Linked DNA regions of Homo sapiens. The protein of the gene in region 2 interacts with the protein of the main gene of each other region in a pairwise test. Each region holds a gene or a part of one and is shown on either strand. Other genes may lie near its edges.

What was found.
Region 1: the proteins of HABP4 (region 2) and HMGXB4 interact in a two-hybrid assay, tested with the Homo sapiens proteins (one study listed by BioGRID).

What each region holds. Positions count from the first base shown.
Region 1 is NC_000022.11:35,286,808-35,295,983, reverse strand, and holds the end of HMGXB4 (HMG domain-containing protein 4), read right to left. Parts: intron 8,638-9,176; coding exon 8,532-8,637; intron 7,747-8,531; coding exon 7,577-7,746; intron 2,993-7,576; coding exon 2,870-2,992; intron 2,378-2,869; coding exon 2,333-2,377; 3' UTR 177-2,332; downstream 1-176. UniProt on the Homo sapiens protein: Negatively regulates Wnt/beta-catenin signaling during development.
Region 2 is NC_000009.12:96,444,478-96,454,210, reverse strand, and holds the start of HABP4 (intracellular hyaluronan-binding protein 4), read right to left. Parts: upstream 4,043-9,733; 5' UTR 3,932-4,042; coding exon 3,583-3,931; intron 3,023-3,582; exon of another isoform or gene 2,745-3,022; coding exon of another isoform or gene 2,726-2,744; intron 1-2,725. UniProt on the Homo sapiens protein: Ribosome-binding protein that promotes ribosome hibernation, a process during which ribosomes are stabilized in an inactive state and preserved from proteasomal degradation.

The DNA.
Region 1 (9,176 bases), on a different chromosome or scaffold from region 2:
AATAGAAGCAGAGTAAGGAGTATATTAAGAAAATGGCTAAGATTAGAAATTTAATCTCCATTGTGGGTTGATTTTTTTCTTAAGAAAATTATGGTAGAATAGAGTGAAAAACAGGTTTTATAATTTCATAGCAACTATGATGATCATGATTAGGGAAAAGACAGCTGAGACTGGACTACAAATATTAAAAATGTGATTTTTAATAATATAAGTACAAAATTTTATTTCTTTATACAACTGTAATGGGATTTGGATCAAACCACTAGAATTTATTTAAAAAACAAAATAAAACAATGATATAAAAACTGCAAGAAGGTCTGAATCCAAAGTTTTTCCTCTAATAGTACCAAATACCACAAGGTACAGATTATTATACAAATGTGTACAAATTTTAAATACAAATACAATAGGGCTGGGTTTCAAAGGAAAACAAACAAAAAGCAGGTCCTCATCAGGATTTCATTAATGTATATAAATGACAATGCTAGGATTAATGTCTTCCTATACTATCCATGTCTTCCCCGCCCCTCCTAGATACCCTGTGTCAAACAGGAAACTTCCACAGATACAGAAGAGGCATGGTACAATGTTCTAACACATGAAATCAAGTTAAGATTTCTGTTCCTCTTGATTTTGGTTCTCAAACAATCCTGTTTCTCTGTATTCCCAATTAAATCTTAAAACTGCTCTGAGCTGAGAAAGGGATTCAGCAGCCAGACTACCTTTAAGCAACATAGCCCTGTGACAACACTGGTGGGGAGAAGGGAAGAAATTAAATAGGATGCAGATGGGCTACACTGTCCCCAAAGATTTACTTTGATGCTGTAGTGCTCTGTCAGGGCCAGGAGAAGAAAGCACAGTTAACTCAGAGCTTGGTGTTGGCAGAGAATCTCATACCAAATTTAAAAACCATCCTGAAGTGCTCAACTGTCTTCTTTCCAACTGGGAAACAAACGTCTGGTTCTCTGGAAATAAGGGCAGCTGGGGATGGTAACATTCCTCTTTATTTTACTTTCTAGACATTATTGAAGCCCATGAAGTTCTTTATAAAGAATTAGAATCCTAACACAATGATTCATTTTTGAGGTAAAATACCTTAAAATGTAGATGATTCAGAGTTTTTGGAACAGACCAGGAGGAAGGAAGGAAAGAGGGAAGGAAACAGGGAAGGAAGGAAGGAAAGAAGGGAGGGCGGAAGGGAGAAATGACAAATCTGTATCTTCCACATGCTGTTGCTGGTGGAGGCTTCTGTTATTAAATTATATATACAGAAATTTACAGGATAAATTAAAATCTAAGAGATTTTAAAGAGTTAAATACACATAATTAAAATACACATTCACACACACATAAATAAACCTACAAGAGAGTGAGTTTTGTTTTGTTTTTGCAATTCACTTACATGTGGAATGCAGAACACTGTGTATCTGCCCACCAGGGGAACTGATAAGATGAACCCAAAAATCATGCTGGGCAAAGTTTATCCATAACCACCGAGCAACTAAGCAGCACGGCTTGTGAGGACTTGGTGGCTAACTTCATGCTGCCAGTGAAAGACACCAGCACTTAATTCTGCCGACTAAAGATTCTGGGTTAGCTCAGAATGTATGGAGGTCCAACTGGTGGCATTGACAGCTTCACCCCCCAAGGTGTTTTTTGCTGCCAGGGCTCACAGAACTCCTTGGCCTCTGTTGAGGCCACCAATGGTACCAATGATTACAATAAATTTTGAGACACAGACACCTATACAGTAGGAATTGGAATGAACCCTCTACTCAATTCACCTAAGCCACTTCCATAACTATAAAGGGAACAAATTTTATCACCTCCCACCTAGGTCACTTCAAATTGAAAGGCTTTGAATTTTCAGTCAACTGGCATCTTCCCGTTATCTTTCCTATTACATTTCAGACTAAGACAGGTAAGGCAAATGGTCAGTGATGGGTCTGGAGGTCCAACTGAGCTTGGAAAATAATCACATTTTAGCTGTCCATAAAGAGATGCGCTTGGCACCCAGAACAAGCCCCCAGCCCCCAAGTTACATTGATTTTTAAGGCAGATTTATCCACCACAGGAGAAAAAAGAATCCCAAGCCTGTATTCATGCCAAAATTTCCTCTTGGCTAAACCTTTGCCATTTCATAAAATTATTAAAAGCAAAGTAGTTACAGTCTATGTATATATTGTACATTATATATATATGTATATATGTATGTATAGATATAAAAATTTAAAACCTACAGCCAGAGGCCACTGAAGGAATCTGCAACAGTCATATATACACAAACCAGCAATGGTGTAGGATAAGGTTTCTGTCCCAGGATTCTTTGCTGTCACAGTCCCGGCATGATGTAAGCAATGTTGTCTAATGTGTTTGACTGCAAAACAAAGAAAAATGTTCAACTGAAGAGTACTGTACCTTGGTTTCCTGAGAGATGTTTCTTTGTTCAAGGAGAGAGATAAGAAAAATCAAATGGAGTTAGAAAAACAGGTGAGAATGAAGACGGCATCCTGCTGTTTGTTATGCTAGGAACTTTTCTGCTGACTTCTCCCATTAATCCTCGTAAAAAAGAGGGAAACAATTCCTGTACTGTCTTTGGGTGCAGAATAGCAAACAGGAAACACAGGAATTGTAGTACCTCAAGGGCTAGAATGCTGCTTTCTTAAGTACTGTTTTGGTAAATGGCTTGTTTTCTAGTTTCAGTGAAAGTACAGCATGCATTTGATAATATAGCATCATGTTCCATGGGCCAACAGATGAAGGAAGCACTGTGTGTCACAAAGCCTTATGTGTGTCTGACAGTGCTCATTAAGGCAGGGCATCTCTGACGCCCAATGGATCTGACTCTAAAAATCCAGGGAAAACTCACCAAGACCTGTTTGGGACAGCCATTCAATTCAGGTAGTTGTGTGGTGAGACATGCCAAGGGGCCAAGGGCACAGATAATGGAATCCAGAAGCACTGACAAACTGCCAGACACAGCCACCATACCCTGAAAAGGAGAGGAGGTTGTTGCTTGAGTCACACTCCTGATGCTGTGTTCCGGCTGACTTCCTCACACAGTACTTTAAATCCTAGGCAGTTCTACTCTTATAATTTGAAACTTTACAGCAGAAATGGAAAGTTTACTTTGATAACTCTGTAAGTTGTTTAGAAAGAAAACTTTTACAGCACATTCCCATGTTCCCTTTCCGTAATCCTAGCCCATCTTCTTACCTTCTGAGTGACCTTGGGGAGTTCACATCCTTAACTTCTGTCTCCTTAACAGGAACAGTAAAAAATGCTTTACCTACTCTGGAGAGCTGTTGGTAAGATTTGTGATTATGTATGCAAAGTATATCTGTTATAAACTCGACAAATATAGCTCAGATGTGATTACTATGAGAATCCTACAACCCTGCATGTATGTAGCTTTTGATAGCTGATTATACAATTTTTCTAGGTTGAGTTGTTCACTCTCAAAGTGAATTTGGTTCAAATTTTAACATTTTATGTAATTCATATTGTCTATTTGTGATTCAAAGAGATAAGAAAGACTGTTGCTGCTGCCGAGTTCTTGTATAATCTGCTTTAACTAGAAGCAGTGTGAGAATATGTCATATTGGGAAGCAACACAGCACAGTCCTTAAGAAAATGAGCTCCGGATTCAAGACTGCCCGGGTCCAGATCCTGGCTCCACTACTCACTGTTTTGTACCTAGGCAAGTTGCTTACTATGCTGTGCCTGTAAGATACTAACAGCATCTGCAGCAGATGGGATTGAGATAATAGATATAATATACTTGGGATGGTGCTTAATACATGGTTAAGTACTCAAAAAATATCAGTAATTATGAATATTACTACCAACATCTTGATCTTCAAAACTGCATTTCTGGCTGTCTTTTGGGTCTCTCCTTTTGGATATTTCTCCATCTCAACTTCCTGTAAGGAAGAATAACCTTCCCATGCAAATCTAGCCCTCCTTTGAGCATCCATTTCTCTGCCAAAGTCACCACCATTCACATAACTGCCCAGTCTCAAGGCCTAGCCATCACTGACTCTTCCTTTCCCTCATCCTCCTTGTCAACATCTCCCCCCTATACTTTCTGAGGGCAGCAGTACAGTAAGAGGTTAAGAACCCGGACCTTGAGGTCACATTCCAAATTCAAGTCTCTATTTTACCACTTAGGGGCTAAACTCTAGAGAAAGTGACTTCACCTCTTTAAGTCTGTTTATTCTTCTGTAAAATGGGGGGAACAAATTCTGCCTCACAAAGCTGCAGTGTGAATTAAATGATATAATTCATATTAAGCACTCTGAACCAAAGCTGGGTGAGTGAGCCTTCAATAAAACATTAGTATACAGGGAAGATAATAGCTAAAACCCCAAAAATGTCAGTAATTAGTAATATTGTTCCATTTCCTTTGCCCTATATTTATTTATAGCTAATTTATCTTTGTCACATCTAGACTAGGATTATTGTTTTAACTTCTCCCCAATTCTGGTCTCTTTTCACTTCCAATCTAAAATAAAAGATATTCTCAGAGAAAAGTAAATGAGAGCTCTGATCTCATCCCTTTCCACTGTAAAAACCCCTGTAGTTCCCCAACAGTGAAGTATACACACTTCAGAATGTCTATGAAGTCCCTCTGCAATTTGGGTTCTAGCTTTAACTTTCTTAAGATACACACACACCACACGCCACACACACGCACAATTTTTATTTTTATTTTTTTTGAGACAGGGTCTCACTCTGTTGCCCAGGCTGGATGGAGTGCAGTGGTGTGATCTCGGCTCACTGCAACCTCCACCTCCCGGTTCAAGCGATTCTCCTGCCTTAGCCCCACAAGTAGCTAGGATTACAGGTGTGCACCACCACAACTGGCTAATTTTTGTATTTTTAGTAGAGATGGGGTTTTGCCATGTTGGCCAGGCTGGTCTCGAACTGCTAGCCTCAGGTGATCCTCCCACTTTGGCTCCCAGAGTCCTGGGATTACAGGAACAAGCAACAGTGCTCGGCCTCTAGCCTTAATTTTCTAACTTATGCATTGTATGTTCCAGTTTTACTGCTAAAATGATGAACATTAATTTACTACTGAACATATTATTTTGATAATTATATGTCCATTACGATGTACATTAAAAAAATAGAATATAACCCTTGAGATGTCATGAATGTCACTGTAAAAGCACAGACAAGTTTATTTAAATAAAATTATAAAGTAAGTAAAAGTATTAAGTGGTATGTGGAAATTATAAAATTGCAGAGATCTATGCAAATGATTAAATTCGGGCCAAAAGTGGATTAGAGGGAGAATGGGGAATAACTGCCAATGGGTACAGGGTTTCTTTTTTTTTTTTTTTTTTTTTTTGAGGCGGAGTCTCGCTCCGTCGCCCAGGCTGGAGTGCAGTGGCGCAATCTCGGCTCACTGCAAGCTCCGCCTCCTGGGTTCACGCCATTCTCCTGCCTCAGCCTCTCACAGGCGCCCGCCACCACGCCCAGCTAATTTTTTGTATTTTTAGTAGAGATGGGGTTTCACCACGTTTGCCAGGATGGTCTCGATCTCCTGACCTCATGATCTGCCTGCCTCGGCCTCCCAAAGTGCTGGGATTACAGGCGTGAGCCACCGCGCCTGGCTGGTACAGGGTTTCTTTTAGGGGTAACAATATGTTTTGGAATGAAATAGTAGTGATTCACAATTCTGTGAATATATTAAAAATCACTAAATTCTGCACTTTAAAAGGGTGAACTTTGTACTTACTAAACTAAATGGAAATATCTGGGAAAATTCAGAATACGCTTAAAACAAACTGTTTTTACTTCTAACTTCTTACGAAACGTAAGAATGATTAAATCTGAAAAATAAGTAAGGTCATAGAATACTTCTTCTGGAAATATCTATATCCATTCAGATATCGAGCCTATATGAAGGTGCTGAAGTTCTTTTGACTACTGCTAAAATTTTTAGAAACTAGCCAAAGAATTTAGATATAGCTTCAGCTCTTGTGGCCTTTGGCATTTTATTTGTTGAATAATTCAATTTCCACATTGAAGCAAGTGATTAGTTTTACATTCCTACACTAATTTCTTAGCTTAAAAATGGCTTTAGTAGCTTAGACTGACTTCTTTGCTGAAATGTCTTACTAGAACTTGGTGGAAAGCGGAACTACTATACTAATGAGTTAGCTAAGGGGACAATATTGTTAGAAATTGAATATGGTAATAGAAATGAAACACGACAGCTGTGCAGGTTAAGTGATTTTTGAAATTGAAGCTTAAAAGGACAAAAATCTCCCCAGGGCATATAGCACTGTATAATTTAAGTGCAGAGTAATGGAGAGCTGGGAACCTTAACTTCTCCATTTGTTACCTATTTTCAAAACAGAGGAACTCTTAATCTCCTATACAATTGAATATTCAAGACTTTGCTGGAAATGCAGAGAAAAATTCAAAGTCTCTTAGAAGGAGACAGAAGTAATCAAAACTGCTATGGAATTTGTACTCATCCTTTTTCTTGCCTTTTTGTTTTTGTTTTTTTAAAAAAGATAGGGTCTTGCTCTGTCACCCAGGCTGGAGGGCAGTGCAGCAATCATAGCTTACTGCAGCCTTTGAGCTCCTGGGCTCAAGCAATCCATCTGCCTCAGCCTTCCGAGTAGCTGGGACTACAGGTGTGCACCACCATGCCTGGCTAATTTTTTAATTTTTTGTAGAAATGGGGTCTCGCTATGTTGCCCAGGCTGCTCTCCAACTCCTGGCCTCAAGCGATCCTCCTGCCTTGGTCTCCCAAATTGCTGGGATTACAGACATGGGCCACCGTGCCCAGCCACCACTGCGTTTTTCTTTCTTTCTTTCTTTCTTTTTTGTGATGGAGTCTTGCTCTATCGCCCAGGCTGGAGTACAGTAGCGCAATCTTGACTCACTGCAACCTCTGCCTCCCAGGTTCAAGTGATTCTCTTGCCTCAGCCTCCCGAGTAGCTGGGACCACAGGTGCATGCCACCACACCTGGCTAATTTTTGTATTTTTAGTAGAGACAGGGTTTCACCATATTGGCCAGGCTGGTCTTGAACTCCTGACCTCGTGATCCGCCTGCCTCAGCCTCCCAAAGTGCTGGGATTACAGGCATAAGCCACCACGCCCGGCCCCATTTTTATTTCTTTTAAATTTTTTGAATATATGTATTTTTTGAGATGGAGTCTCACTGTGTTGACCAGGCTAGTCTCGAACTCTTGGCCTTAAGCGATTCTCCCAGGTGGGCCTCCCAAATTAGCATTACAGGCGTGAGCCACTGCGCCCAGCCTCCACTGCATTTTAAAAAAATAAAAATAAGTTACAGGGTACTCCAATTTCTTTTTGTGCCATTGTTTCAATAGGATATCATTAGTGAAACTTTGAGAGCTAACAGGTAGACTGAATATCTCTATAGATATTTCTGTTATTATCATTATATCTTCTATGTTACGCCATCCTGAGAACCTGGCATAATTTAGCATAAAGTAGATGCTCAATACATGTATGTAAAATGAGTGAATGAATCAAAATTATATGGGAAACTATATGGGAAACTGTAGTCATGCTGCTGATAGTTGTATTCACCTCAGTTTCCTGCAGACGGTGTCCAATGAGGCTTAGGGACTCTCCCAACAGCTGAAGATGAGCAGCAACATCAATGGGCTCTGTCTCAGGGGCTTTGGCTGGTGAGGCTGGTAACAGCATGGTGGTGGGTGGGGACTTCTTCTGGGGTGACAGTACTCCTACAGAAGAGGCTGAGAACAGAGCAATGAGGCAGACAGGTAAAACTTGCCTACAGCCTTGAACAACACAAAGTTGTTCTTCCTGATTTTCCCTTTTTATGAATTATACCAGGCATTAGCAAAACTGTGGCCTGTGGGCTAAATTCAGTCTATGGTCTCTTGTTTTTTATGGCCTGTGAGTTAGGAATAGTTTTACATTCTTAAAGGGCTATAGAAAAACAAAGAATATGTGACAGAGAATGCGAGAATGCATACGGCACACAAGGCCTATAATATTTACTCTCTGGACCTTTTTTTTTTTGAGATGGAGTTTTGCTCTTGTTGCCCAGGCTGGAGTGCCATGGCACGATCTCGGCTCACCGCAACCTCCACCTCCCGGGTTCAAGCAATTCTCCTGCCTCAGCCTCTCTGGTAGCTGGGATTACAGGTATGCGCCACCACGCCCGGCTAATTTTGTATTTTCAGTAGAGACGGGGTTTCTCCATGTTGGTTAGGCTGGTGTCGAACTCCTGACCTCAGGTGATCCGCCCACCTTGGCCTCCCAAAGTGCTAGGATTACAGGCATGAGCCACTGCGCCTGGTCTACTCTCTGGACCTTTAAAGAAAAAGTTTGCTGACTTCTGATTTGCATTTTCTAAATTTGAACATCTCTTTTTGGTAGCTTGTAACATTCCCAGGTAATAATACCTGGGAATCAAGGTCCACTTCTAATACTGCAAGCTTTTTTCCCAGTTTCTTAGCAAGGAAGCAAAATTCACATGCTTTAGAGAAAAGCAGGGGCGGGATGTGGTCACTACCTTTGACTTTCATGGAACCTTCTGAGCTGGATGCTTTCCTTTTCACAGTTGTGGCTTCTGCTTTGTTCTGTTTGTGCTGCAGATACTGAGCTTTTTGCTTCCAAATCTGCAATCACATCAGTGAACATTAAATTAAATTAAGAAGGACAAAATGTAAAAGGAAAAGCAGTCATGAAAGAACAAAATGGAGAAAAGAAAGGCAATAGTAAGAGGCGGGCAGACAGAGGGTTAATGCTAACTTTTAAGCTGGGGGTCACCGAACTGACTTCAGACAGCTGACTACATTAATATCTTAGTAAAGGACTATAAACATTCCTCAATGCTAATGGTCAAATCTCGGCACTGATTTTTAGATCACTCTAAGTTGAAATGTAAAATCACAGATTAAACCTCTGGCTCAATATAATGTCTATGTGGTTCTACTAACCTGCTAGTTGGCAATACCAACACAATAGCAGAATAACAATAACAAGGAAAACAAAAACTAAGGATAATCTGGGTGAAGAATGGCTGTTCATCTAGATGACATCTTGCTCCTATATGACCTTCATATCATAAGTCTCAATGATTCAGATATGACTTTTTTTTTTTTTTTTTTTTTGAGATGGAGTTTTGTTCTTGTTGCCCAAAGCTGGAGTGCAATGG
Region 2 (9,733 bases):
CAACTACAGAATTACTTATAGGTGCTTATCCCACCTTTCTGCTTCCTCCAAGTTATTTTTTAATTGCGTCAAATTTGGAATTCATCAAACTTAAAATAGGACATTTACTGTACACCATATTAAAGCCTTTTCCAACAGTATAAAACTGAAAACTGTTAAATACAATTGGCTACTTATTAGAATAATTATCAATATCAAGCAAACATTTCATTTTCCCTCCCAAACCCCCCAAAACAAAGATAATTAGAATAATGATCAGTTTTGGGCAAACATCTCGTTCTCCTTCCCAACTCTCCCAAAACAAAGATAATCAGCATCCAATTTTTTCCCCACAATTTAGTACTAAGAGATCAACACTGCCATGAATTGGGCTTGTTTTTCTGTGCTGGATCAGCAGCTCCAAGTGGAGAATGCAAGCACTGCATTTCACTAACCTCGCCAAGAAAAGGCTGGCACATGCATTCATCATCATCTAAACCAAGCCCAGGTAAAGAAACAGAATACAATAAAATTTACAGTAAGATTTTCCACAAAATAAAATTGACCTTTGTTTCAAAGAACATAATTCTGAAAGGCTAGGAAAAGCAAAACTGAAACGGCCTCTCATGACTTTAAGAATGAACTTATTGAGCAAGGCTCACCCAAGGGTTTATATACATATTGCTAGACAGATAGTCAGACATTAAAAACCTACATTTTTGGCCAGGCATCATGGCTCACGCCTGTAATCCCAGCACTTTGGGAGGCTGAGGCGGGCGGATCACCTGAGGTCAGGAGTTCAAGACCAGCCTGGACAACATGGTGAAACCCCATCTCTATTAAAAATATAAAAAATTAGGCCAGGCACAGTAGCTCACACCTGTAATCCCAGCACTTTGGGAGGCCAAGGCAAGCAGATCATGAGGTCAAGAGATCGAGACCATCCTGGCCAACATGAACATAGTGAACCCATGCCTCTACTAAAAAATATACAAAAATTAGCTGGGCATGGTGGCGCATGCCTGTAGTCCCAGCTACCCAGGAGGCTGAGGCAGGAGAATCGCTTGAACCGGGGAGGCAGAGGTTGCAGTGAGTCAAGATCCCGCCACTGCACTCTGTCTCAAAAAAAAAAAAAAAAAAAAAATTAGCCGGGCATGGTGGCAGATGCCTGTAATGCCAGCTACTAAGGAGGCTGAGGCAGGAGAATCGCTTGAACCCAGGAGGTAGAGGTTGCAGTGAACCGAGATCATGCCACTGCACTCCAGCCTGTCTCAAAAAAAAAGACTCTGTCTCAAAAAAAAAAAAAAAAAAAAAAAAAAACCCTTTTCCATAGGAAAAGCTTGTGACTTCCACATTCTTTCAGGATTAACATTTCTATGATATGTCAAACATGTTTTATTTTTGTCTACACTAAGCATTCACTTACAACATTCTAACTAGATAAAAAATTTTGAATGTTAGAAAAGTACAGTGCTTCTTATCAACTAGGGTTACAAAACCTTGAGAGAATAGCTCCTTGACACCCATTATAGATAAATTTAGTACAGTAACTACATAAATGGAAATTAATGAGCTGTTTGCTCCTGAAATAACACATACTTGAAAAAGAACTTGAATGATAAAATTTCCGTTCTAACTACAAAATCAACTAAATACCTTTAGTTGATTTCAAAAGCCAGATCACTTAGACCTAACAACTGACAGAAAAAAAAAGTTACGAGTGTACTACATGACAACATCAAGTGCAGGAAACAGGTTGCAACCCAGTTTATATCATTTAAGTTTAGAAAGAAAAGAAATAGCTCTGTGCATTTATGTATATAAATGCAAAGTGTTAGTAGGAAAAATAAGAGGATTTTCACTTAACCTCATACATTTTGGAATTGCTTAAAATTCTTAACACAAAAATGCATGACAATTTTAAAAAGGCTAAAAATCAATGTATTAACAGCACTAACTCGTCTCACGTTTTTCTGAAGCACAGAATTTTTTTTTTTTTTTTTTTGTGACGGAGTCTCGCTCTTTCTCCCAGACTGGAGTACAGTGGCTCGATCTCGGCTCACTGCAAGCTCCGCCTCCTGGGTTCACGCCATTCTCCTGCCTCAGCCTCCCGAGTAGCTGGACCTACAGGTGCCCGCCACCACGCCCGACTAATTTTTTGTATTTGTAATAGAGACGGGATTTCACCGTGTTAGCCAGGATGGTCTCGATCTCCTAACCTCGTGATCCGCCCGCCTCGGACTCCCAAACTGCTGGGATTACAGGCGTGAGCCACCACACCCGGCATTTTCATTTGTTAAAAAATAAAGGGTGAAGAAAAGCTTAGCCTTCCTCAATTCCTTTATTATATTGATGTAAATAAGTTTAAGAGAAAAAGATAAAAAACAGGATATAAAATGCACAATGTATCTCCAGTCTCACTGTTTAGATAGGCTCAGAAATTTACTGGCCTACCAAAGTGTCGTGAGATAGTAAATAACATTTTTTTAAAAATCATTTTCAACATCTTTATTGTAGTGACTTGATTCTCAAGTGATGACTCTGGATTTAGCTTTTCACAAATAAAGGTAAACATTACCCAGCTGCACATCAAAGCCCTAATACTTAAACCTGAGACGTTTCCTCAGGGCTGCGATGCACAATTTTTATCAAGCAAGGAACAAACCAATAAAGCCAAGTTGAACACACTGGCAAACGTCGGCAGGAATGGTCAACCTACACATCTTAATCCTAACACTCTGCAAACCTTGGGACCGCTGCCTCATTTCAAGAAAACAGGAAACACAGGTGGAGTGTTGCTGGCTCTGCCACTGACGCAGTTCGGTGAGAGAATGAACTCTGAAGCACCCTCCCCGTCCACAGGCAGCAGGACACCACGCTGCGCACCGGTTTTTCTTGCTAAATAGGGAGTGGGGAACTCCGAATATTCTTGCTGGAAAGGTTAAAAACGCTTTTCTTAAAGCAGCCTTGAGCTATTTATAAGTTGCACATCCCATCAACACCACACGAAGTACTGAAATACGATGCCGGCTGCCTCCTGGAAGCTACCGGACGGAGAAGGGGCGAAGGCGCCAGGCCGGACCGCGCCGGGGACCCCCGCCCGGGCCCCGACGTCACAGGCCGCCCCGCGGTCGCCCAGGCCTCCGGCATCACAGAGGCCCCCAGCCCCGGGACCAGGCGCCCTCCTCCTCCCCACCGCGCTCTCGGGTGGCTCCGACCTCAATCTTGCAGAGGCTGGGCTGGAAGATGAAGGTCCCCGCCAGGTCTGGATGTGGGAGCCCCGGGGTAGCGACCTCAGCCGTTCGCCCCCACACGCCACCCAGACAACCTCCCTCAACTTCGTCCAACTTGCCGTAGAGCCTCAGTGCCAGGGTTCGAGGGCCCTATCCCACCCCAAGCCAGCGTTTCCCCCGGAGCCCCGCACGAGGCTGGCGAGAGCTGGAAGGGGTGTGACCCCTGCCCCTCTCCTCCTACCTTCGGCGGCCACCAGGACCCTCAACTCTCCCTACTGTTCCCGGGCCCCTCCTCCTGAAACCGGCCCCCGGGACCCCAGTCTCACAGCGGGCCGAGCCGTGGTCCGCTAACCCCGCTGTCCCCGCGTACCCGGCGCCTGCAGGCCGCCCCCGGGGCTATCGGGCCGCTGAGCGACGGGCGCCGGGAGGCTCTTGCGCTCCTTCTGCGACTCCCTCCGGCCGCCCGCGCCGGCTCTGTGGCCCGAGGCCCCGGCTGGGCTCCTGCCGCCGCGGGGACCGGCCCCGGCCGCCGCCGCCGCCTCGTCGCGCCTCTTGCGCTGCAGCTGCTGCTGGCGCCGGCGCTCGGCCTCGCGCAGGATGTCGAACGGGTCCGACTCGTCGTCCAGCAGCTGATGGAAGCGGTTGGCCACCACGCAGCCGAAACTCTCCTGCATCGCGGCGCCAGCGGCAGCCACGGGACTCCCCAGAGCGCCCTTCATGCCGCCGCGACCACTGCGGGCCCGGGAGGGCAGCCCACGCGAGCGCGTCTCAGCGAAGCCGGCGGCCAGGACCCATGCCGCCCGCTCCGCCGCCACCGCCCTCCGGGCCCTACCCTGTCCGGCCCCTACCGGCGCCCGCCCCCGCGGCGCCGCCGCCGTCCGCCCCGCTGCGCCAGACAGCCAGTCAGCGCGCGCGGGTGCGCCCCCTTTCCGACACGGCGCGCCTGGAGACCCAATCACCGACCGGCTGCTGTCACGTCACGCGACCTCTGGGCCCCGCCCCGTTCGCTCAGCAGGGAGGGGCGGGGCCCAGGGGCGGAGCTACTGGCTGGTCCAGGCGGCGCCGACGAAGCGGTGGGGTCTCGGCTGTGTGTGCTTTCTCCCGGGACTGCGACCGTATTTGCTATGGGCCACTCTGCTTTGAAGCTTATGTATACATTTAGCCGTGCAACAGCTACATATTGCGCACTTACCGTGTGCCAGGCATTATGTTGTAGGAAATACTAGCTCCGTGTTGTCACAGATCTGAGTCTGTAGATGGAGAAAAAGTGCCCTGAAGGACAGGCGCAGAGCTCTCTACGGGCTGCAGCAAAGGGATCTGACCTAATTGGGAAATGACAGTTAAGCCGAGGGAGAGGGGTGACAAGGGGTTGGAGGAGGAACAGCAAGTGCAGCAGTCTTGAGGTGGGATGTGCACAGCCTATTCAAGCTCAAAGTGGTCTCTATTCTAAGAGCAGTGGGAAGCAAGTTTTGAGCATGAGCAGATTTGGGTTTGAAAAGGCCACCCTACCTGCACTGTGAACTAATAGTTTGGAGGGAAATACAAATGGATGCTGGGAAGCCAAACATGATTGTTGCAAAGCTCCAGGGAAGAGTTGATAGTGACTGGGATTAGGATGGTGGCGGTGGAGGCGAAGAGAGTAGATGGATTCAAAGACTTGGTGATGCGCTAGAGGTGGTGATGAGGGAGAAGAAGATACGGTGACTCTTATTTTCCTGGCTCCAGCATCTGAATGATAGTATTAGTTACCACTGGAAGACACTACTTTAACGGGAATCATTAATTCAGTCTGGGACACGTTGAGGTTTGGATATTTGTTTTCTTTTGAGATATTCAGTTGAGGCCTGGAGCTTAGAGAACGCCGGACTGGACTTCCTCCAGGAAATCTTTGCATAGGCAGCGGTGGAGACACGCTTGGCTGCCTATCCTACAGCCGTTCTTTCCCTCTTACATTTTTCCAGAGCCTGTATTTTGTTCAGGCATCATATTCCCCAGGGGAAGAGGGCCCCTTCCAGCCTCAAACTTGATTAATCATACATTATTCATTGCACCTGATTCCAATTCCTTGCCAGTAATTGGCTTAGGAATAGGCTGTGGGGCAAATCGGGCAGAACAGATCTGAGAAGTATTCTGGGAAAGTTTTTCTTGCACCTAACAAGGGATTGAGAAGGGATCTCCCCCCCTTCTGTTCCCTGGTCTTTGTTCCATGAGAAGACATGATGCCTCGGGTGGCTGTTCCTTAGCGTGGCCATGAGGATGGCAGAGCAGGATAGAGAAAGGCTAGATCCTTGATGAGGTTGAGCTGCCGACTGGACCCACTTGGGAACCTCCCTACTTGAGGCTTATGATGTAAGGTGACAGATGTGATTGCGCTTAGTTGTGTTTGCTTGTTTCATCCGAAAGCATCCAGTTAGAGCATCTTGCCAGGTGCTCTGTGACCAGCTTTTACTTTCCTTAATAGCAAAGGAATTCCTAATCCTAAATGCTGTAAAGTCTGTGTGTTACTCACTTATTGAATTTTGTGTTATTCCCAAGGAGGACAGGGATGATGCCTGTCTTATTCACTGCAGTATGTATTCCCAGTGCTTGGCGTTCTAAGCAGCTATAGAGTAGGTTTTCAGTAAATATTTGTTGAATGATTGAAGAATTTAAGATATTTGGTCATCTCCTTTTGAGTGAGCAAAGATTAATGCCTACGCTTTCTACCCAAAAGAATTAAAAGCAAGTGTTCAAACCAAAACTTGTACATGAGTATTCATAGCAGCACTATTCACAATAGCCAAAAGACAGAAACAAATAATATACATGTCACCCGATGAATGGATAAATAAAATGTGGTACAAAAAATATTATTTGGTCAAAAAGGAAGTATTGATACTTGTTACAACAGGGATGAAACTTGAAAACATTGTGCTAAGTGAAAGACGGACAAAAAGGGCCACACGTTGTATGATTCCATTTATATGAAATGTCCAGAATCTATAGAGACAGAAAGCAGATTGGTGGTCACCAGGTGTGGGGGTTGGGAGTGTTGGAAAGTAACTGCTTAATGGGCATGGGAGTTTCCTGTGGGGTGATGAAATGTTCTGGAACGAGATAGTGGAGATGGTTGCACAAAATTGTAAATTTAGTAAATGTCACTGAGTTGTACACTTTAAAATTGTAAAAATAGTAAATTTTGTGTAAAATTTAGTAAAAATAGTAAATTTTTTGTAAAAATAGTAAATTTATCTTAATGAACCAGAGTAAAAATAGTAAATTTATCTCAATGAACCAGAATCACTACATGCAACAGAGACCACACTTTGAGAAGCACTGCTTCAAGCTAAAGTTATCTTTGGTATCTTTAAACTGCTCATCACCAAACCACAACACCAAGGAATCATGATCATGTGAGAGAAGGGCCTGTCGTCTTCCCACTGGGCATCTGGAGTTAGCCTGCTCCCCTGTTTTCTTCTTATCTTCCTTACAGCATAACCAGCCACTGTAAGTTCTTAAAGCATGCCCTGTGAGCACTGCCGCCTCATTTCCAAGTCACAAATGCCCCAAATGGTTGTAAGAGAACCAACTCTCGTTGCTTCAGGATTCAGAACATCTTTAGAACTGAAATAGAGATGAGTAATCCTTACCTGGTATTAGATGGCCACAAGTTTCTTTTTTTTCTTTTTTTTCTTTGTGTGTGTGTGTGTGTGTGTGTGTGTGTGTGTGTGTGTGTGTGTGTTTGGCAGAGACAGGGTTTCACCACGTTGGTCAGGCTGCTCTCAAACTCAAGTGATCTGTCCACCTCAGCCTCCCAGAGTGCTGGGATTACAGGTGTGAGCCACCGTGCCCGGCCATGGCCATGAGTTTCTTACGGGGCTATTGACTACTGCACAATTTACTGAGAGTAAGGTTAAGCACCCTCATATTTTTTACTGATTGTTTTTTCTTCTAGGAGATTGCATCCTTAAATGCATTCCTAAAATACAACTCTACCACATTAGCATAAGTTATTCACACATTGTGTTTAATGTGGTCAGTTTAATAGACTGATCTTTTTCATAATCTGATATATGAAAACAGCTTTTAGTAATCATAATACCAAACAATAACACACATCTTATAGCATGGAAAAACAAAGCACATCAAAAATGCTGTGAAGTGTGGATGCTGAATAATACTACCAGCCCTTCCATGATTATTATATATATTCCAGTGGTTATTTATTACCACCAATGGAAATGCAGTGAAACTTAACTGTATACAAGATGTAAATTACCTTGAATTACTTAATAGAGGAGTCCCATTAGGAATAATAAAATACACTAACATCTTCCAGATTGACTTGGAATTCACAGAACCATTAATTGAGAGTTTAGACACATGTAGCTTCATTACTTTCAATTACATGCAGGGAGCAACACCTGGGTGAGAGCCAAGGAGGAGAGGCCAGGTCAGGCTGGCGAGGATGTGAGTTCTTGTTAATTACCAAAGCACTGCATTCAATCTGCTCTGTTTTGCCGCTGAATTCCTGCTCTCTCTCTCCTTACCTTTTTCTTGTCCCTAAAGTTAGGATGATTATAACCTGTCTTGCATTCTTCATATAGTTGAATGGAAGACAAGACCAAAGAAGTCAATTGAAAAAGGTAAAAATAAATCTCACTATTTTATAATTGTTTCTACTTGCATAATATATGCAAAAACAAAAGTATTTTTCCTAACTCTAAGAGGATCTGATCTTTTATGCCAGTTGAGTCAATTATGACAGGATCAATGAAGTTACATAATAGTTCCTGGTTTCACTATTCTAAGGGTGATAAGTGAGTTCAAATTCAGTTTCCCACAACAAATGAATAAAGCAAGTAGCAAGTACATAGGCTCAAAGTCAGGAGTTGTAGAACCATAAACCATTAGTTAACAATCAGGATGCACCAGAAGAACTTCTAGCAAGCGGAAATCCATTCATGATGATCAGATACACAATGTTTAAATCATGAAATAATTTCCCCAACCTGCTAATAATATTTGTATTCTTGGTGTCATTGAGGGTCTTTCCAACTTGCCTTCTTATGACAAAAGGTTACTGGATAGCTTAGTGCTTTGTATACTCAAAGCAATTGTGCCAATAGAAATTTTTATTCTCTCCCATTCCTACTATTAAAAGTTTGATCTCTAGTTGTAACTTTAATCAAGGCCAAATAAATAATTGGGGATTTAGAACTTTTTATTTCCTCATTTATTCTAGATCCTTCAAGTTGTGAGCAACAGAAAACCCATCTGGAATAAGTAAAACCAAGGACTTTGTTGGCTCAATAAAAAAAAAAAAAATCTACCAGGAACAGTGATTCGCTCCAGAAATTCCAGACCAGCCTGGAACTCCTGAGCTCAGGCAATTTGCTTGCCTCAGCTTCCCAAAGAGTTGGGATTACAGCCATGATCCACCATGCCTGGCCAACTTGACTTTATTTATTCATTTATTGAGATGGAGTCTCACTCTATTGCCACAGCTGGAGTTCAGTGGCGCAATCTTGGCTCACTTTAACCTCCACCTCCCAGGTTCAAGTGATTCTCCTGCCTCAGCCTCCCCAGTAGCTGGGATTACAGGTGTGCACCACCACATCCAGCTAATTTTTGTATTTTTAGTAGAGACAGGGTTTCACCATGTTGGTCAGGCTGGTCTCGAACTCCTGACCTCAGGTGATCCACCTGCCTCAGCCTCCCAAAGTGCTGAGATTACAGGCGTGAGCCACCATGCCTGGCCGACTTGACTTTAGTGCATGCACAGAAGTCCCAGAATTGAATCACGGGCCTATGTCTTGGGTCACACATACACCATTGAACCCAGTTGCTGTACTGAAGATCATTTAATTCTCTCATCATCCAGGCTTGATTACCAGCCCAAGCTGGAGTCTGATTGAAGTCATCACCCCCTGAACCACTGGAACTGAGAGTTGATGGGGTGGTTCCCTGAGGAAAATAAGGTTTCTAAACCAGCAGGTAGGAATAGATGCTGGGCAGGTAGCAAACAGAATTCCTTGCATGTGATGATGAGCATGAATGTGGTATTGCTGTGCCTCTTGTCACACTGGATTATTGGCCTGCATTATAGTTCTTTGTCCTTATTTCTCCTCCCTAAGGTTAGAAATAGTGTCTAATTCATTTCTGAATCCCTTCCTTCCCTTCTCTCTGGTTTCATCTTCAGTGCCTTTTATTCAGGAAATATTTGTTGTTTGGTGAATGAATTTCTTGTTTATATACATGTACTTATGACAAGTAATTTTACATGTGTTAAAAATAAAAATGTGGCTGAGTGTGGTGGCCACATTTTTACTTTAATCTCAGCACTCTCGGAGCCCAAGGCATGAGGATCACATGAGCCCAGGAGTTTAAGACCAGCCTGGGTAACACCATGAGACCCCATCTCTACAAAAAAATTTAAACATTAGCCAGCTGTGGTGGTGTACACCTGCGGTCCCAGCTATTCGGGAGGTTGAGGTTGGAGGATCACTTGAGCCAGGGAGGTTGCGACTGCAGTGAGCCAT